3 separate regions of the Homo sapiens genome follow, and all the other regions are linked to region 3. Evidence: fine-mapped expression QTL. A gene starts in region 3. Each other region holds a variant in brackets. All regions are shown on one strand. Distances are from middle to middle. Region 1 overlaps TSPAN3 (tetraspanin 3). Region 2 overlaps PEAK1 (pseudopodium enriched atypical kinase 1). Region 3 holds the start of TSPAN3 (tetraspanin 3).

The links. PIP is the estimated chance that this variant, and not a neighbour inherited with it, causes the effect.
Region 1: its variant is fine-mapped to the expression of TSPAN3 in whole blood (TOPMed, PIP above 0.99).
Region 2: its variant is fine-mapped to the expression of TSPAN3 in whole blood (GTEx, PIP 0.97).

The regions. Positions count from the first base shown.
Region 1 is chr15:77,038,514-77,044,876 of GRCh38, forward strand. It overlaps TSPAN3 (tetraspanin 3), which reads right to left. Exons shown (of 7, transcript NM_005724.6): 7 at 2,891-6,363. Among named protein-coding and RNA genes, the nearest start is that of TSPAN3, 29 kb to the right of the region's middle. RefSeq lists an enhancer at 4,625-5,824. The variant G/A (reference allele first, on the strand shown) is at 4,012.
Region 2 is chr15:77,115,082-77,122,628 of GRCh38, forward strand. PEAK1 (pseudopodium enriched atypical kinase 1) reads right to left here. Exons shown (of 10, transcript NM_001385026.1): 10 at 1-238. Among named protein-coding and RNA genes, the nearest start is that of TSPAN3, 48 kb to the left of the region's middle. The variant A/C (reference allele first, on the strand shown) is at 3,500.
Region 3 is chr15:77,067,759-77,075,305 of GRCh38, forward strand. It overlaps TSPAN3 (tetraspanin 3), which reads right to left and starts at 3,351. Exons shown (of 7, transcript NM_005724.6): 1 at 3,134-3,351. The coding sequence starts at 3,196. RefSeq lists silencers at 107-196, 2,818-3,517 and an enhancer at 3,658-3,717.

The DNA of each region.
Region 1 (6,363 bases), 30 kb before region 3:
GATGGGGGTGTGGTGCTAAAAGGGGCCTCAAAGAGCTCACTCAGCCCAGGAGGACAGACAGCCACCCTCTAGGCCCTGAGATGTGAGGCAGTAAGTGGGGGGAGTGGTTCCAGGGGCTGGTGCAGGCCATCCAGCAGAGGGGAGGGTGGCTTGTCTGGGAAGTGGTGACTGGGCTGGAGAGCAACTCTGGAAGAACACAGGGAGCAGATGGACAGGACTTGGTAACTTACGGGATGGGAGATGGGTGGGAAGAGAGGGAAAGTGAGGAGGTGAGGAGTGACTTCGGAGCCCAGACTTGAAGATGGGCTCCTCCCCAGGTGGAGGAGCTGGAGGGGAGTGGTGCGGGAACAAAGCCTGGGCGAGGGCTGGGAGAGGCGGGACAGCCGCGTAGGCTTACCACTGGGTGGGGCCATGTGTGGGCAGGGAAGGGAAAGGAAAGAGTAAAAAGGTATCAATACTTTACTTATTCCTTGAAGATGCCTTGTCATCTTGATTGAACATTCCATTCCACTGCAAAGATTTTTTAAAAAACCTTTGGCCTAGATATTTATCATCATCTCTGACAGGTGCCGCAGTGTCTGTGGGCCCCAGAGCGTGATGGGTAACAAGTGCTAGATAACAGAGTCTGTTCTCCAGTCATTCGGGTGGCCAGAGAATAGAACTGAAAGCAACTCTTGGGTCACAATTTATGCCAGGGGGAGAATGCCCACAAATGAATCCAAGTCAGATTCACTGCTTCTGCAGCTTTCTCCGTTCTCCCATCACTGGGCACCACCTCAGCTGCTGGGAACCAACTGCATGGATGGATGGCCTTCCCAGCAGAGACGGTGCCAGATAAAGAGGGAGTTAGCGTGTAATTGGGTGTATAAATAACTGCAGCCTCTTCCTGACCGAGGGCCACTCAAAGACAGCAAGGAGCAGGAGGACAAGCATGGTCTCTGAATCACAACATCAGGGCCTGAATCCAGGCTCACGCTTTCTTGGGTGGTCTTAGGCAAGTCACAATTTCTCTGGGCCTGTTTCAGCATCAGTAAGATGGGTGCAATATGCCCCCATGCAAAATCTCCTAAGGTTCAAATTAAACAATGATTAGGTATTACTTACCAGCAAGGGATACCACTTTTAAGGAAAAGACCCACAACCTCTGAATCTTGGCTACACTCAACAGCAGCTTTGCGCTTGGCATAATCCCCCTCGCTCAGCACACCCTCTGGGACAGCTGTGGTTATGTCAGTGAATCCTTCGCAATGATGACAAAAAGCAGCAACTCACGTTTGGCCAAACTGGAAGCACGCGCCACTGGTGTCCAACACCTAATTCCAACCACTCTCACAGCCTTTCCTAGGCCAAGAAACCTCAGCATAAGGGTCACCTGCTTGCCTTGGTCTGACTACCTGGGTGTCTGCCTATTTCTCCATCCCGGCTTTTGAGCCAACACAAGCCCAGGACAAGGTCGCACCAGCAACTGGGCTCGCTGCCCTCAGCACCCTCACGGGATTATCAAACTGTGCTCAGTAGAGCCCTCTTAGGGGCCAGTGGGAGGAGAAAGGGGGCACCCACTCCACTTCGAGATCTACTTGGAGAGTTTACATATTGCACGTGCAGTGGTTCTCAACCCAGCTGCTCAACGGAGTCACCTGAGCAGATTTTCAAATGCTGATGGTTGGGTCCCACCTCAGACAAACTGAAACCAAATCCCTGCAAACTGAGCTTGCGCATAAATATTTGAAACATTCTCCTGGTGATTCTGATACGCAGCCGGAGCTGAGAAACCCCTGGCTAACAGGATCTTCAGCTAAACATTTTTAAAAGTTTGAAAAACAGTTATGGCACCATAGTGACTTATCTCAGGTGATAGTGCCCACTACCTGCCAGATGGTGGGATAACAAAGATCAGCAAGTAGGCCGGGCACGGTGGCTCACGCCTGTAGTCCCAGCACTTTGGGAGGCGGAGGCGGGCGGATCACGAGGTCAGGAGTTCGAGACTAGCCTGACCAACAGGGTAAAACCCCGTCTCTACTAAAAATACAAAAATTAGCCAGGCGTGGTGGTGCGCGCCTGTAATCCCAGCTATGTGGGAGGCTGAGGCAGAACTGCTTGAACCCAGGAGGCGGAGGTTGCAGTAAGCTAAGATCGTGCCACTGAACTCCAGCCTGGATGACAGGGCAAGACTCTGTCTCGGGGAAAAAAAAAAAAAGATCAGCAAGTCTCTTTTCTACCCTATAATTTCTACATCTGTCTTACTTTCTTCATTGGATAAACTCAGGGGAGCAGGATTTATGTATGACTCAACTTCCCCACAAATAGCAATGCAGCAGCACCATTCAGTAGATACGAGGTTTCTGCCACGTCACTGTGTTACACCCTCAGGAGACCTCACAGATCTCACAGGCACTGCAATAGAAAGCCACGTGCAACACACAAGTTATTTTCAAGAACTGCAAGGATGCACCCAAAAAGCAGGTGCTGTTACACACCAACAACCACCAACTCGGAAATAAGTTAGGAAAACCATTGCATTCACAATAGCTACAGACATTAAGCTTCACAGAAAAGTTTCCTAAGTAAACTCTGTTAAGATCCGAAAGAAAAAAACCCAATAACCAATCAAACCGGGCAGAGGACAGAAGCAAAATTCAGAAGATACAAATGGCTGAAACACCTTTAAAAGCATCCTGGCCCTAGCTAACAGTCAAATAAACACATATTTTCATCTCTCAGAATGGAAGAAAAGATGAAGGCTGATCACACCAAAAGTGTCAACAAGGGTGTAAAGAAATGCACATTTCATTCACTGCTGGTGGGAATAGAAATTGATATAAGCTTTCTGGAGAGCAACCAGATGTATCCATGAAAATGTTTAAACGTGACTTTTTTTTTTTTTTTTTTTGAGACAGAGTCTTGCTCTGTCACCCAGGCTGGAGTGCAGTGGCATAATCTCGGCTCACTGCAACCTCTGCCTCCCGGTTCAAGCGATTCTCCTGCCTCAGCCTCCCAAGTAGCTGGGATTACAGGTGCATGCCACCAGGCCCTGCTAATTTTTTGTATTTTTAATAGAGATGGGTTTCACCATGTTGGCCAGGCTGGTTTTGAACTCCTGATCTCAAGTGACCCACCTGTCTCGACCTCCCAAAGTGCTATGATTACAGGCATGAGCCACTGCACCCAGCCAAACATGACTTTTCCATCCAGAGTAAATCCAACTAACAAGAATCCACCCTTGGAGTTCATGTAAAAATACATGACACAGGGTGATGAAAGTGCTTTGAAACTAGATACAGGCAGTGGTTCTATAGCATGGTGAATGTACTCAAGGCAACTTCTTTACTTTAAAATCGTTAATTTTATGCCATGTGAATTGCATCTCAATAAAAATTGTTTTCATTTTAAAAATTGTAAATGACTGCAGTGTGTGTATAGAGATGATCACTGTGGCGAGTAGTGGAGGCACTGGAGGCAGCCTGCAGGCCTGCCCTTTATACACCTTGGTTAATCATGGTACTAATGTACCCACACAGCTAACACAATGGAATGACAAATCCTACAGTTAGACATGGAAGGAGCATCAGACTATGTTGTGAAGACAGAAAGAGGATCTTGTAGGATAAAATTCCTATTAGCAAAAAGCAAAAACCAAAACCCAATACCAAGTCTGTTTCTGTGTATGTAGTCTGCAAAGACACATGCCATTGCTGAACTGCTGAACTTGCTTCCCTGTGGGTACTTCTTTACAGATGTCTGTATTGTTCACATTTTTTAAAGCACCAATTACTTTTGTTTAAAAAAATACACTTAAAAAAGGCAGTAAGACAAGCTCTGTCAATCATCTATAGGACAAGAAGCAAAGACACCCCAGCTGCAATAAGCACACCTAGTGCCAGGGACCAGGGCTCCTGGGACAAACACTGATCCATGGCTGGTGCCCAGGGGCCTGGAACATCTTGTTAGATCAGAAATTAGGGGAGTGCTTCCAAAAATGCTGGGATATAGGAGGCACTCGAAGGGGCTCTC[G/A]CTGGCCAAGTCGGGAACTATCTGAGGAACTCTTCCCCCATCCCCAAAGGTCAATGATGAAGTCGACTTTTGAAAAAATGGGAATCCATAGTGGATATATGAAAATAAATGAAGGAGAAGGGAGGGATGACTGGCAAATGAGGAAGGAGTGCTGGGCTGCAGAAACGTCGCTTGGCAGTCATCATAAAGATTGAATCAGGCCAGAATCAGCAACATTTGCTGAACCTGGTCGGGGAATGGGGAAGAGTCTCATGAGGAACAGGGTATGTACATGGAGACAGTGTGTCTCCAGAGATTTCTTATTAGTTGAAAAGAAAAAAACAGTAACCATGCTATGGAGAAAGTGGACACACCTCGACTAGGTGTGCCAGGTACTCATTTATTGCCTCTTAACTCCAAATTTCCCTGACCTTGCCCTTCCTTGTCACACTGAAGAGGGGGCTCTGAAAACTCCTTTACCCTTTGCCAGCCTGACCCACAGTGGGCTCTGAAGGGGCTAACAAGGCTAGAGGAGGAAGATGGCCTTTTTCTTCTGTCTCCTTTCGTCCTGCACGGGTCCCAGCAGCATTCCCCACCGTGACAGCTCTCTGCTCCTGTGGCTTGGCGGGGGGGCACCTCCAGTAAGTTGATTCTCCAGCATGGGACAGGCAGCATATCCCAGGCAACCACAGCCACCCCTCGGAGGTCTCTCCACCTTGGGGAACCTCCTCTGAGTTTCCACGTTCCTTCTCTGTTTTCTCTTCCCTTAGCCCTAGGGGTGATGGCTGTTCTCTGCTAAGCTGCTTTAGAGCTCTTTTTTATCCCTTTTAGTAGTTAACTACCTTCTACACAGTTAACAATTACTTATATTAAAACCTTCCTGTTCACATTTCCTCCTCCTTGGACTAGATGATCAAAACGAACATCCCCACTGTGGGGCAGATGGGCATTGTGTGCCTCGAGATGCGATGCCCTGAGAGGCCGCGTGACGCAGGTAGTGGTTCAGCCACCTGGAATGCAAAACCAAATCTAATCACGAGGAAATCGCAGACAAACACAGATAAGCAGCACCACCTAAAACGAACTGTATCCTTACAAACTGTTCCTATCATCACAGACAAAGCTATGGAAATGATCCAGATTAAAGAAGACCAAGGAGACATGACAACTCAACTGATTACCTGATCCAGACCAGATCCAGCACCGCAGAGGGAAAGGTGCTATAGAGGACACGATGCGGCCAATGGGAATATGAGTGGTGAGGTATTCTATCAGTGTTAGATGGACGGAATTTGACAACTGTACTGCAGTCGTCAGAGAGTATCTTCTTCTTGGTAAGTACCCACTGAGGTATTAGGGGTAAAAGGCCATGACAGGTGTGGAGGCAGCAGGAGGGAGGGAGAGGGAGAGACAGGGGGTTGGCGCAAGGGAGAGAGAACGCACACACATTTGAGAACACACATGACAGATAGAATGGGACGAAATGTTAATAGGTGTATCTGGGCAAAGGATATTTGAGCCTCATTTGTACAGTTTTTATTCTTGCAACTTTTCTGTAGCTTTGAAATCATTTCCAAGTAAAATTAACTTTTTTAAAAGAGGCCATACAATATAGCAGTGGTCCTCAACCAGGGCTGTGTCCTGGACACACCCTAGAGCACCTTAGATGCTCTGGGACCCAGGCATCTGTAGTTCTCAAAGTGCCCCGGTGCTTCCAATGTGCAGCCACGGGCAGGAAACACCAGCCTAGTGGGTGAGCTCACTCACTAAATTTCAGACATGACGAGCAGTGCTTTTGCTCTCTGAAGAACAAGCACTGGGTAATGCCAACACCTAGCCTCAGCTACACGGGGGAAGGGCAGAAACAAGATGTTGAATTTGCATGGCCCTGGCCAACACAGACAACATCCCCTTCTAGTGGTTCCCAGGCAAGAGAAAAAGGCATTTCCAGGACAACTGTGCCAGGAATTAAACACAAGTTAAAACTGGCAGGAGCTGGAATGGTTTCCCAGACCTCAGAGCTACCTCCCCACCTCCATCTTTTTGGTCTCACTGGTAATATGGCCAGTCTGGGTCCAGCTGGCAGAGCACACGGGAGGAGGCTGCTCTCTCACCAGGCAAACTGAGGACTGAGTACAGGAAGGGTGTGGAGAATTATCCTCTTGGGCAAGTTGAAGAACAAGGCTACTGCTTGGCATATTTCCCAAAGCCATTTCCCACTCTAGAGGCCCTGTTCTGTCCTGTAGAAAGAGTGGAGAACAACCAACATCACAGTCCAAATATTGCTCACCTCAGGGCCAGCCTGTGACAGGGTACCCACAGGATGGTTCATATTGAAAACTGGGGGGACCATGCTCGGGGGAGGTGGTGGTA
Region 2 (7,547 bases), 47 kb after region 3:
CAGAACAGGGCTTTGGGTTTTTCCCATCCGTTTCTCCTTTGGCGTCTTCTTCAGTCTCTTCCATGTCATCCTCATCCTTTTCAGGGTCATCTGGATCCTCCCAGGGAAGCAGACGGTTAGGGACTTCAGCAAGGAAATGACCACAGTCCTGCTGAATGTTAAAATGGACAGCCAGACTCTGCCGGACAGCCAAGCTGTGATAATACTGCTGAGATTCTTTAGCTTTGCTCTTACAGATCTGAAAGATAATAAAACAATTCAAAACTCACACTCTCATAACCAGGTTTATGATGTATCAGGGAAGATTAACTGGAAGGTGACTGGTTAGGGACAAACGATCATATAGTAAAGTTGTTCGCAAGGCTTGCCCCATGTTAAGTGGCAATAATAATGGTGGTAACCATTTCTCATGGTTGTCTACATGCCAGGCTGTGGTGAGCACTTTAAGTGTACCATTTTTAGTCCTCACATTAACCTTTCACAGTAGATTGAGGATCTAAGAATTTAAAAAAGAAAAAAAGCCCGGGGTTATGTGTGCAAACCTAAGTTTGTTTAATGCCAAAGCCTGCTCTTTCCACTATAACCTTGCACCTCATCAGAACAACAACAATGAAATAATTTTTCTCTTACTTCTGTAGAGGTTTGTAGCCCAGAATGATACAGCAGGCCAATGGACTCATAATGGAGACCAAAATACCTTATTTCATCACCCATCGCCCTTTGTGTCAACATCTCACAGCTTAGGAGAGTGATATAACATTGGCCAGGTAAACTGTGGGTTTTCCTAACTTTTCAATGAATGTCATTGTGATGGTCACAACACTGGCACTCATGGTTCACTGGTAGGGTTGAGAGAGTCACTGGTCTGACCTAGTCAGAACAAAGCCAACATTTCAATGGTGGTTTTCTGAGTTTTATGCTTTCTCTTAACAGGCCTCATTTAATACCCACTATTGAGGCAATAAAACCTTTCATAAAGAACTTTACTAAGTGGTTATGGATCAAGGAAGAATTTTTTGATCAAAAAAAGTTAGCCAAGAGTTCTACATACTGTGACGATTCTATTTCTACTCTTAAGGGGTTATCAAAGCAAAAAGTAAGTAAAACCACCCCCAAATGGGTTATTCTCATGCTATAGAGAGGCTGACCGTGGAAGACTGAGTCTCTAATACTAGTTCATGGATCATAATAGTCTGGTCTGGAGTCTGCTCCACAGCCCTGTTAACTGAGGGTCATTCTCTGCTCTCCCTCCTCAGCAGAGGCACACTGCCACATTACAAATATCAAAGGCTCCCAGGAACATGCACTCTCTGTAGTGTTTACACTGCATGTTTATTACAATAATACAGAAAAGCAAAACTTAAAAAAGCAATTTCTAGTCATTTTTATTTAAAAAGAAAAATGTACACATTCTTAGGAAGATTCAGATAGGACCCAGTTCTGAGAAGCAGCACATTCTGATTTCCATTCAAATAGATTAAAAAAAAAAAAAGATCAAAGACAAGGGAGTCTCAGCGGAGAAAAGCATCTCTCTCTCTCTTTCTCTTATTCTCTAGTTTATCATATTTACTACAGTTAAAGAAGCCTGATATCAGTGATCAGTGCCATGGAAATCAATCAATCTATCTATCTATCTATCTATCTATCTATCTATCTATCTATCTATCTATCTATACCTCAGCACAAGTTCCTTCAAGTCTTCTACTACCTATCTAATTCAGTTTGAGGATATACTAAGTATTTCTTTTTTAAGCAAACTTCTGGTCTTGAACAGACATCCCCAGCCTGAGTTCAAGTTCAAACATATATCTTTCAGAAAATATTATCTCTGGAAAGCTCTCGAAGTCTTAGTATATGCAGTATAATATATAATCCTATATGCTCATCAATCATAACATTTGTTATTTTTGTAACTGCACTGTTGGCAATATTTCACATTTAAGTGTTACCAGGTATTTAAAAATTCTATACTAGTCATTGTTTAGTTGTATAGGAGTTGGATCCAGCACATGGCACCATTATCCCCATTGCCAGTTAAATTTGCTCAATATTATATTGTCTTCTGGAATGAAAGCTCAAGGGTCTCAACTCTTCATACCACTAAATTTGGCTGAATCAGATTGGATGGTTAAACTCTAGCTGTTACATTATAAAAAATGACACTCTCCAAGGGCTTGGGAGGCCTGGGATTTAGCTTTGCTACTAGCTGTATAACCTTGAGCATTTCACTAATTTCTCTGGGTCTCAGTCTCCCTATTAAAGGAGACAATATGAAGAACACTGAAATCTACTTCACAGGGCAGTTGTGAGGATTAATTGGGATCAAGTATATAGCGTACATCTGTAAACTACAAAGTTGTACAAATGCAACACTGATAATGACTAAAGCAGTTAACAACTTGCAAATGTCAAACTAATGCAATCTTAGAGAATCCTAATTTTTTGAAACAATGAGCAAAACAGAAAAATAGATCTTTATTTTGAGTCCCGACAGCCACCTGCCACAGCAGTGAGGCTCTCTGATCACAAATTTGATAGAGGACAGACAAAAAGAAACTGCTAACATTCAATACCTCCAAGCCAGGGTCAGCCCTGACAAACAAGTTAACACCAGCAGTATGTTAGAATCCAAGACAGGGCAACCTAAAGCTATGAGAGAGAATTGTTTGGCCAAGTCTAGTTTTTAACTATGTCAAGTCAGGCTGAAAAAAAAAACTGTGACCTTGTAGTTTAATATTAGAAGCAGAGAAGGTATTCTAATTGTGACTCGTATTTTAATTGTGATATTCTAATTATATCTAGACATTCACACAGACACACACATTTTTATAAGGTCCTCCAGAGCTTTGTGAGTAGACAAGAATGTGGATACTACAATAAGAATTTATGTTTAGCTTCACAGATCTACTTGAGATAAAGGATCAAAGTGATTTACGAAGAAGAAATGATAAATTGTTTCACGATTTTGGATGCTCTAAAGGAAAATGGTCTCCCTAGATAGATAACCTGAGTGGGCAGCACTTCCTTATCTCTTCATTTTATAATACATAGACAGGTTGAAGAATAATGAGTCACTCTAGCTTTAAGAGCAAAGGCAAAAGGGAGAAGACTAGAGTGTAAAAGAGGAGGGAAAAAGAGTGATTTTACTTGGTTCATAACCCTGAAAACAGTTACAACCCAAACACAGACCAATGGAGATTTCCATAATAGGATTTTGCTTGATGGGTATCTCATAAATCTTTATTATGGAGCCTGCAATGATGTTAATTTAGGTAGGAGTATTATATTATTCTAGGTACCACATTGTAGCCATTTTTCAAATATTAATAACTCCTTTAGTTAAAAAAAAAACCTCAAAATGACCTGACTTCAGATAACAAATTTCTAGTTCAAAAGTTATTTCAGAAAACAAACCAATTTTTCAGAACAAATGGATAGGGTTCTTCCTGTCAAATTTTTTCCTTCTGCCCTTACCCAGTATTTTCTCTACCAGGGATTA[A/C]AGTAACTTCTTCTTGGCTCTCATTATCTTTCTTGAAAAGAATTCACATTCCTTCTTTATAAAGAGTAGCTGGCATCTCAAGAGTAGCAGGAGGAATCTCAAGAAAGATTCTACTTGTTCATGCCAGCTACTCTTTAATCTATAAATGATTACTTCAGGACTCCTCCTAGGACCCCCAAAATTTAAAAATAGGAATAAAAATAAACTAGAACTGGAATGGTCCTACATCTTCATTAAACATTCCCTTTTCTAATAGGGGAAAAATCACCTCATATTTGCCTTGGCTATGTTTGGGAAAATCTACTTAAAATGCTGTGAATTTGGCAGATTCTGTGCTGTCTATATTTTCTGAAAGGCAAGAAAAAATGCTATGAGAGCCTGAGCCACAGTGACACTAGAGGGAGCTGCAATATCAATATCCAGGAGTCATTTACTTATAAACTGTGCAGCAGGAGAACAAAACCAGGCTGCTGAAGGTTGAATCTTCTTGTAAAATACACCATAGGGCCTCTTTCTGGATAAGCTTTTGCTTCTATGATGCTGGCAATACCAAATGCATGCCAAGGGAACTCCTCGTGTGAAGAGCACAGACAGGAAGAGAAGCCCATCCTGGGCACAGTGACCCTCGCCCACTTGCCAGCTCACAGGAAATGCCCGCTTGAGCTATTCTCCAAAGGAGTCAGAGGAACATCAAAAGGGACAGCCAGTCAGCTGGTATATACATATGCACCAACATGAATAACCTACAGTTGCAAAAACAGAGGCTTGAAGGGAAACTGGCTGCTTGTCTGGGTTAATAAAGATCAGTGAGGACAGAGAAGGGAAAAATATTAATTCATTATCAATTGATCATTCAAACAAGTATCTCATGGCTCCTGAGCACTTCCCATCTGTAAGACACAGCATCCTGAAGCATTCTGACCAGATTCCTAAATACAGAGGGTGGGGACCCTTTAACCACTGATAAATCATCTGTTGGAAAACTGGGGGAGAGGGGAAACAACATATTGTCTTCCAGAATCATAGCCAAATTACCCTCTCCTGAGACCTTCTCAGACTCGGGTCAAAGAACCCAACATTTACAATCTTAGCAGGGAAACAGAGCTTGAAAATGATTCATCATGCACAACCTGAAAAGTTTAATTCCAAACATACATTTCAGTTCAGGGGCTCATTTTCCATGTTGCTCATGACAACTGCCCTGCATACCTTTAAGGCAAATTTGTCATTAAAAAGCATTTATGTTTGTAATAACTTCAACCTAGAGAGCTAACTTCTAAAAAGTAGACCATCAGGGGCTTTGACTGTAAAGTCCCATTAAAAATAGCTGGGGAGAAGATAGTGCTGTCTAACACTACTGAACCTTTCAGAATGATCACAAAGCCTGGGACCTGTGAGAGGACATACCTCTTGATGCTCTCTCAACAACAGATACTCTGTTTAAGGCAACTAAGTCAGAGGGATAGGGGGAAAGGTGGACCTGTGCAAAACTGGATGATATGACTATGGAATTAATCTGTCGTTGAATGGCATGGTGTTACTCATTCTTCTTCATTGACCCTTTTTCCCAAAGGTTCCGTGAAGTGCTGGTGTTTGGAGTGCCTGCTCTCCATCCTAGTTTTTCATTGACAAACTCTCTTCCGCAAGCTTGCTCATAGCTTCAACCATGTCATATACACTACTGACTTCCGTGTCTACATTTGTAACGCACCCTTGTCTTTGGGCTTTAGGCTCATCTATACAATGACCTACTTGATTTCTTCCCATATATGTCCTAACCCATAGATTACTTAAACTCAACATAACCAAACCTGAACTCTCCGTCCCACCAAACTCACTGCTTTCCCAGTACTCCCTCTCTTGATGAATGGCTTTGTTACCTGGATGAGAAACCAAATTCACTTTGGATTTCTCCTGCATCTTCACTCCCTATGGCTAATTAATTATCAACTCTCATTGACTTTTCTTCTAAATAACTTTCAAATTATCCTCTTTTCTCCATCTCTATTGCTACCTTCATCACTTGCCTGGACAACCACAAAAGCTTTCCAACTGGTCTGCCTGCCTCTAATGTGATCCCCTCGAATACATCTTCCACATGGCTACAGAGCCATTAAAAAACAACAGCTGGTATTTCCTCCTTATTTAAATTTCCTAGCGGCTCCGCTTTATCCTCATAGGAGAAAGTCCTGGCCTTGCCTCCCTTTCCAGTCCTACTTCCCACCTGTGTTCCATTTGCTCTTACTATATTGAGCTATCTGCAGCCGGCCACCCACTCTACCCTCCAGGTGTTCTCTCAGTTTGGGGCTCCTTGTCACCCCTCATCTGCCTGAGGGATTCCTACTTCTTTTAAAGCCCTTCTCAGGCATTACTTTATCAGAGAGAGGAAGTGCTAAATACCCTAAACCCCCTTTCTGTGTTACTTCTATATCTTGTACATATCTCTATTATTGCAGTTATCACATTTTTTATCTTTAAAAAATTTTTGTTTTTTATAATTTTTTTCAATTTTATTTTAGATTCAGGGGGTACATGTGCAGGTTTGCTACCTGGGTATATCTCATGATGCTGAGGTTTGAGGTACAACTGATCCCATCACCCAGGTACTGAACACAGTACCCAACAGTTTTGCAACCCTTGTCCCCTTTCCTCCCTCCTCTGACATTTTTTTGTCTATCTTACAAGCAGATACTTGTATCTTTAGGGCCTAGCACAGAGCAAGGCACGTAGTACTTGCTCCATATGTCTGTAAAAGATTCTGAGAAAAGGCAGCATCTGATCCAGTGCTGCCATAGGGCTTATTTACTCGGAACAGGTAGAATATATGAACAGCTTTTATGAAACAGATAAAAGTTGGCAAGGTGATGGGGTGGGGGCAACGGCAGATAAACCTGAATAATAAACACTCATGAATGACCTGACTACACAAATGAGTGAAATCTGATCAGTGAGGGCTGTCTGTTGAGTCCAGGCTGCCCTGGGGGCTTGCTGATTTTGTACTGCACAAAACTACAAAACAACATGGCTCTCTGTCATTCGATTCAATTTTCTCTCCTTTGCCCCAAAGAAAGCAATAATTACAAAATATAAGACTCTTCAAAAATATTCTACATTAGCTCTGATTTTTCCATTATGGGCCCAGTATGCCTTCAGCCTACTTCCAGTTTATCAGCAGGGAATCTCATTTCCATCTCACTCTATGCATTCTATAGTGCCTCAGTGAACCTTAAGTGAGATGGATGCTATAGGGAATGAATTGTGGAGGGACAAAAATGAGAAACATTAACAATCATACACATTACACCATCTGTGCCATTTTGTCATATCACACAAAAGTACAACTGCAAATGGGAGTGAGCATAGAATGAAACCCTGCAACTTCTAAATTGATATCCAGTATTTGGTATAATCCCACTCTAAGAATACAGGCTGATCAGTGATTGACCTCAATTCCTTGATCTGCCTAGGAGGAGTATTGCTATACTTGCTGCTACAGAGCTAAGACCCACACACACTCAATGCTGTTACAACTATATTCAAAATAGATTAAGTGTTTAATATATAAAACGCTGTGTGGGCCCAAAGTACTCAGGACTCCATGTTGTAGGAATCTGCTATGAGAACTGTTGGGTAGGCCAGATAATTTACAGCTTGAATTGCTGCAAAAATGTTCACATGCCCAAGAAAGTGATTTTGGATCCTAGAAGAGAAATTCAAGAAGGTAACTGTGTAAGATTTCACCATTTTATTTGTGACTTGTACTCACCAAAGCTTTTCACTCTCCCACTCAGCATGTGTATCCAATGAAAATAACTTGTGTTCCTGAGCCAGTAATTTAGGCTGACAGAATGATGCCCAGGATGTTCACACTAGAGAAACTGAGGCACAGAGTAGTCCAATAACCAGCTCAGGGCCCACATTAGGAATTCAATTAACTTGAATTCCAACTTGTGATTCTCAACTATATCCTCTCACCTCATTAATTAAAGCCATGCTCCCTTTTCCCACCAGACAACTCATTTTGATTCCAGGTTTACACAAACATCCA
Region 3 (7,547 bases):
AACCAAACAAAGTGTCATGTAAATTCTGGTACAGTTTCTAATTTTAGCAATCTCAAAATCAGCATGCTTTAGAGAAGTGATTCTAACAACTTTCTTCTCTTTACAAATCTTCTGAAATCACACTTTGTCCTAACATCACAGTCTCTAGAGTATGGGACAACCTGGGTTTGAACGCAGGCTGTATCACACCTTGGGTGTGCTACTTTGGCTCAGTCAACCTTAATGTTCTCCTCTAAAATGTACCTAATATTCCCTGCTAGATGGGAAAGCTGTGAGGATATGCCATGTAAAGTGTTTAGCACAGTGCCTGGGGTATAGTAACTCAAATGTTAGTTGCCATTACCCATCATCATCAGATTCCCACAGTTAGTCCACAAACTAATACTTTCTTGGGAGACATACCTAATGCTGTTTCCTCATTAGCTACATTGCACTGTGACACATTTGCCCCCAGCGTATCTGCTTAACTTCCTTATCACAGCTCACAAAAACTTTACTACCCTACTAACCAAGATAAAGCATATTTTTACTAAACATTACCACTTCAGTCTTGGCAATAACCCGCTATGAAAAGCACCACTGAAGTTCAAAATAACTTTCTTCACTGGAATAACAGTACATATATTTACACAATATCCAAAGATTCAGAGGAGTCACTTAGAACTGATATTTTAGAGTAAATAAAAATCTAATTTAAAGAAAATGGTTACTGTATTTCCAATATTTTGTTACATGAACAATTCCAGTCCCTGAGCTTGAATAACCTAGAATTCACCTAATATTCTTCAAAATCAAATAGTTATGGCCATAAATTCACAAGGAACTGTAAAGAGTACAAAGCCACATCTTTACCTCTTAGGTAGCTTACTAGCTGACAACGTGTTTCTCATTTGGGGACCCCTGAAAATTATTTTTCCTTTTAAAAAAGCCTGTAACTCTTAAAAAAGATAAATAAAAAATAAGTGAGAACACACGGTGCTTGGTTTTCTGTTCCTGCATCAGTTTGTTGAGGATGATGGCTTCCTGCTCCATCCATGTCCCTGTAAAGGACATGATCTCATTCTTTTTTGTGGCTGCGTGGTGTTCCATGGTGTATATGTGCCGCATTTTCTTTGTCCAGTCTACCACTGATGGCCATTTGGGTTGGTTCCATGTTTTTGCTATTGTGAACGGTGCTGCAGTGAATATATGCGTGCAAGTGTCTTTATAACAGAATGATTTATATTCCTTTGGGTATGTACCCAGTAGTGGGATTGCTGGGTCGAATGGTAGGAGAACGTCATATAATTTCTACATGCCAAGAAATAGTATTCTTCTTTTCATTTGTTTTCCAGTCATTTAGAAATGTAAATATTATTCTGGGCTCTCAGGTTGTAGAAAAACAGGTAGCTAACCGTTTTGTGCTCTTGGGCCAGAGATTGCTGACTCCTGGTTTATAACGAGATGCTATGAGAATTAATGACTTAATCATTGTAGAATACATTTCTCTTTATGGAATAAAAAATGTTATGGATGCATAAGTAGCAGTAGGTATATAGATACGTATTAAATTAGCAAAAGATGCCCTTATAATGGTCAGATTCACAAATCATGCCACATCTACAAAGAGAAGACTGATACGACTTTTGCTAATGGAACTGGTTCTATATGTGCATTTCATTCTTCACAATAAACTCAAGAAACTGAAAAAATAAAATAAAATAAATAAATAAGCCTGTAACTCAAATTAAAGTATAAGAAACACTGCTCTAATTGGAAAAGAAGAAATCACGGAAATGCCAATGTCGCCTGGGTGTTTGCCAACAGCTACTACCTCCCAGTTAGGACTCTTCACACACAAACGCCCCGAAGGACTCTGGCAATACAAGTGTGTAGCAAGTGCTTTTTAACATATAACCATCCTTTTATGAGACAGCTGTCAGGATATGAAGTTTTATCCCTTGTTGGGGGGTCGGGGGAGGAGGAAAGGATTCTTTCCAGAACAGGTGTGCGTATGCGTGGGAGGGAGGAGCTGAATGGGGAGGAGGAAGAGGCACAGTATGGTTAACCGGAATGTTCAAGGAGTGCTCTGGCGACTGTGGACAGAGCAATCTGTCCAGGGCACTCAAGTGTTTAAGGAAATGACAAGTTCAGAGAGGCAAGGTGATTTGGGACCAGACTGAGGACTTCTGCTCCAAGACCAGGGGAAGGAGTTGAACCTTATTCTACCGCTGAAGCTTCTGTTTTCCTTATTTTCAGATCAAGTGATGTGATAGAGGAAACGTTTTAAAAGATTTATCCGGGTGCAAAGTCCAGATGGGCTGGAGGGTGGAGAGACGGATAGGAACAACTTAGGTTACTATAAAAGTCCCTGATGAGATAAGGACCCAAACTAAGATGACATAAACATTCCTTTCAAAGAGGGTGTACCCCTTAAAAATTCATAAGCCACCTTTTATTGAAAGTGAACTCATCACTTTCAAAATCTTGTGACATCTCCATCATATATTTAACCAAGAGTTATAATCTCACAGTTTGGTCACCCCCATGACCAAAACAAATAGACCGATGTTCTTGGTCAATGGATTATTTGGCTCCTCGAGTTGAAACCCTTCATTTTCTGGGCTGGTGACAGTCAGCCGGTTCTCCACACACAAAGGGCGTTAAGTGGAACCCCCGCCCCGGCTCCGCAGCGTCCCCGCGGATCTGCCCGCCTCGGGACGGCCACTCGTCTGCGAGGCCCCGACAAAGAGCGCGGAACCTGAGCCTCTGGCGAAGATCCTATTTCGAGCCCGACGTCCTGCTACAGTCTGCAATAAGCGCTCTCCGTCCAGCCGGCGACTCCGGGGGGGGGAGACTGGGGCGCCTGGCACGGAGCCAGCCCGCGTGGGCCGAGCGCGGAGGCGCCGGCTGGAGGCCGTGGAGTCCCTGAAGGCCTCCCCTCGCTGTCCTCCGCGCCCAGGCTCCCGGCTTGGTCCGGCAGGGACCTCGCGAAGCGGCCTCACACCCGGCCCTCCCCTCGCCTCAGCCGCCTGAGGGCCCGCGCGCGGCCCCCGCGCGCCCGCCCAGGCCCAAGCCCGGCCCCCACGGGCGCCTCCGCCGCGGCCTCGCCCGGCCCCGCCGCCGGCCCCTCGCTCTGCCCGGCCCCGCTCACCCAGAAGATGAGGTTGAGAAAGACCAGCACGGTCTTGGAGGAGGTGATGCCGCACTGGCCCATGGCGCCGGTGGCCCGCGAAGGCCCGGCCCGGAGAGCGGGGCTGCGCTCACCGAGAGAGCGGCAATGGCGGCGGCGCCTCCTCGCTAGGAACTGCACGGCCTGCGCGGCGCTCCCCGCAGCCCCTGCGCCGTCGCGCAGCCCCGACCCCAGCAAGTGCCTCGCTCCTCCGCGCAGCCGCCGCAGTCCCCTCAGGGCTCCCGCGCCGCTCCCTGGCAACCGAGTCCCGCCCCACGCGGCCGGTAGCTTCAGCCAATCGCCTCTGCGGAGGCTGCAGTGAGGCCACGCCTCTTAAAGGAGCCAAGGCCTCAGCGCCTTTTCTTGGCCTCTGGCCGCCCTTGGACGCAGATGGCTCCCTAGGGAGGTTCTGGTGGACCAAACCCACTCTCCTCCTATGACTATGCCACCCTTATAGATGATTCAGAGCCCTCTGAGTGCTATCTTTCTACCTAGCCCATTCTCCCCTAGGAAGGTTGGAGACACTAATCTCTGCCTGACCAGATTCTCCTGACCAGGTTAAAATCTTGGCAGCACTGTTGGTGAGAAGTGCAAAGAAAAACAACAAATACTTATGGAGAAACTTATTGTACCAGGCGCTGGGCTAGACCTCAGAAGAGTCAGAGAGGAGAAAAGGCTGGTGATGGCGTTAGCAAGGCAGAGACATGTTTGTGTGGGTGAGTGGTTGGGAACAAGTTCTATTCCAGGGTAGTAAGTTTTGGACCAAGATTCGCAACGATTACAGAAACATCTCTTTGCATTGCAACATTTCACATTCTTCCCCCAATCTTGAATCCGTCATAGCAATTAATTATTGGGTGCTCACCCGGTGCCAGGCTCCATTAGTTCATTTAACCCCCACCACAACCCTGGATGGAAGGCACTATGGTTATCAGCCTCATTTTACTGATCGGGTAATTGAGGCTTAGAAAGGTTAAGAAGTTCGCCCAGAGCCACACATAGTAAGTGGTCTAGTGCAAAAAACACATCATCAGTCACACAATAAACTGCCTCTGTTTGCTGTCTTTCCTGCCATTATAATCCTGCACTCCCTCCTTGACCGCGCCCGTAAGGATTTCCATTTACTGGTCTTTATCAGCTCGCTCTCATGCAATCTCCCCCACTCATCACCTTTCCCAGGCACTCTCAGAAGTACCTGTTAATCTCAGCATCCTGTGCATTTACACCAAGCAGCAGCAACAGCCATTTATTCACTCATCAAACTTGCCGCGTGTCCCCTCTGGGCCTCACTGTTGTCGGTGGTGGATATTCCACTGTGAGCAAGACGTATCCTTCCTTCCATGGCTTACATTCGTTCGGGCAGAGGAGGCAGACCATAAACAAACGGGCAAGTGGGTATATGACATGAGGTAGTGTTAGGAAACAATTCAGAGGAAAGGAATAGAGTGATGAGAGGAGTCCTCTCTGAGGAGAGAACATTGGAGGGGACCCAAGGGAGGTGAGGGGAACAGCCCAAAGATGAGAGCAGCAAGGACAAAGGCCCAGAGACCGGAACATGATCACTGTGCTGTAGGAAGGGGAACACAGAGAGCCTAGTGTGCTGGAGGTGAGCGAGGCCGGATCACCAACAGCCTACTACGCCAGGCAGAAGCCTTTGAGCAGACCAGTAACACCATCTAAGTGTTTCAAGTGCCATTCTTGCCATACCATGGAGGTCCTAGTTAAAGAAAGAAAAATGATGGGCTCTCAAACATGATTCCCTTTGAACATCTATCTTCTTGACGCCTCTGCCCTCTGTAAATTTCTCTGTCTGCTTTGCTCTGAGTGCTTTTCCTCCTTTTCCAAAACATCCCCTTTGCATTTCTTCATCCTCATCGTGTCCCTTCTCATTTCCCTGTGAAGGTCTCATCAAGTCCTTCTTGTGCCTTCTCCTTGAGTGGGTCTCAGACCCCCCCCCCCCCCACATTACAATCATCTGGGCCACACAGACAAACTCCATCAGATTCTCTGGGGGCGAGCCTCAGGGAATCAGGTGTTTTTCAAAAACACACCAGGTGATTCGAATATGCTGTTGGGGCTGCAAACCACAGTTCTGAGTTTACAAGCATGGTCATGCCTCTCCTATCCTAAAAAGAAAAGCCTCTCACTTAAACACCATGTTTTACTTTTTCTTTCTTCTCTTAGCCAAAGTTCCTAAAAGAGTCATCTCATCCAGTGCTTCTCAGACTTTGCCTTGCGCACAGATCACCTGAGGATGCAGACTCCAGGTGGTGGGGGTGCAGCTGGGCCCCTCTTTGTAGCAAGGGGCTGGACTTCTGCCCTTGACTCTTTTGCTTCCCACTCACTTTTTTTTGTTGTTGAGATGTAGTCTCGCTCTGTCGCCCAGGCTGGAGTGCAGTGGTGCAATCTCCGCTCACTGCAACCTCCGCCTCCCAGGTTCAAGCGATTCTCCTGCTTCAGCCTCCTGAGTAGCTGGAATTACAGGTGTCCACCACCACACCTGGCTAATTTTTGTATTTTTAGTAGAGACGGGGTTTCACCATGTTGGTCAGGCTGGTCTTGAACTCCTGACCTCATGATCCACCTGCCTTGGCCTCTCAAAGTGTTGGGATTACAGGCGTGAGCCATCGTGCCTGGCCTCACTTTTTGACTCACTGCCATGTGGCATCACCCCCACAGTGCCACCGATATCGCTCTTGTCAATGTTACCAGTGACTTATCTGCTACCCCTTCTCTGAGGTGGCATATATCATGGTTAAGAGCACAGGCTCGGGGACCAGGTAGCCTAGCTGGGTCCTCTCTCTGTGCCTCAGTATCCCCATCATAGGGAGAAAATGATGATGACATTACTTCCCTAATTATCATGTGATTGCTGTGAGAATTAAGTGCATTCATATACATATAGCTGTCAGAAAAGTACCTGGCACACAGGTGCTTTGTAATCACCGGAGTTTACTGTTTCCGAGACCTAACCATATTTGGCTCCGTTGACTTCTTCGTACTCAGAACTCTGCCTTTCCTTAGCTTCCATAACACCATCATCTCTTAGTTCACTGTCTGCCTTTGCAGCAGCACCTGTTCCTTGCACCCATTGGATGTTGGTGTCTCCCAGAGTTCTGGCTTAGGTCTTTTGATTTTCTCAACCAACCTGGGCCAGCTCACCCAGAGCACTGGATTCCGTTGCTATCCACGTGCAGGACTTTCCTGAACCTACAGCTTCAGCCCAGGTCTTTCTCTCAATTTCCTTTCCATGAATCCGACTGCCTGCTGTGTTGCTCCAGGTGGATTCATTTATTGATTCAACACATTTATTGGTTACCTACTCTGTGCCTGACCCTATGCCACGTGGTGGGGGGTGGTTCTAGCAACATAGTGGTTAGACCTGGGTGTGTGATGGCCCCAGGGAGCTTGCAATCCAGAGCGGAGATTCAACGCTAATTATGAAATTATTTATCTAATTGCAACTGGGATAAGCAATACAAAGGAGACCCTCAGGCTGCTGTGAGAGTTTATAACAGGGACCATACCATAACCTTGTATGGGGTTAACTTATATGTGTGCCAGACCCGGCAGGTCCCAAACTGAACTCATAATTTCCCCTCAACCTGCCTCTCCTCTACCTGTGTTCCTTAGCTTCATGAATAGTCCACCCATCCTTTTCCCTGGGCCAAGACTTGGATATTATGACCCACAGTCTCCCTCACTGACCCCTTCTACCCACCGAGAGGATCCTTCTTACTGGAAAATTAGCCTTCCTGGGTAACTCTTGGAACTCCAAATTCCTACTGCCCAGTGCTCAGGAAGTCTGATTTTACCTCCACTGACAAAGTTGCTAAGAGAGCAACTGAGGGCATGAAGTCCCTCCCAAGGAAGCACAGACCCACTCTGTCTTGCTGCATCTGACAGTGGCACACCTGTCTGGGGATGATGGGAGGATGGAGCAATTGTGACTTCGCTTACTGACCCCTGGCCTGTAACTTGCCCTAATAAACTCTGTTCTTCAACCCGTACTGTGTGAAGTAAAATTCACTCTGATCCATGTTGTATGACACAAAGAGTCTATCTTTTACCAAAAAAGAAAAGGTTTATTCATTTTCTTTCCATTGTAAAGCAATGCCTGCTTGTGGTGGTTTGTGCCTTCCATTTTTTTTTTTTTTTTTTTTTTGAGACGGAGTCTCACTCTCTCGCCCAGGCTGGAGTGCAGTGGCACGATCTTGGCTCACTGCAAGCTCCGCTTCCCAGGTTCACGCCATTCTCCTGCCTCAGCCTCCCGATTAGCTGGGACTACAGGCACCTGCCACCATGCCCGGCTAATTTTTTGTATTTTTAGTAGACACGGGGTTTCACCGTGTTAGCCAAGATGGTCTTGATCTCCTGACCTCGTGATCCGCCCGCC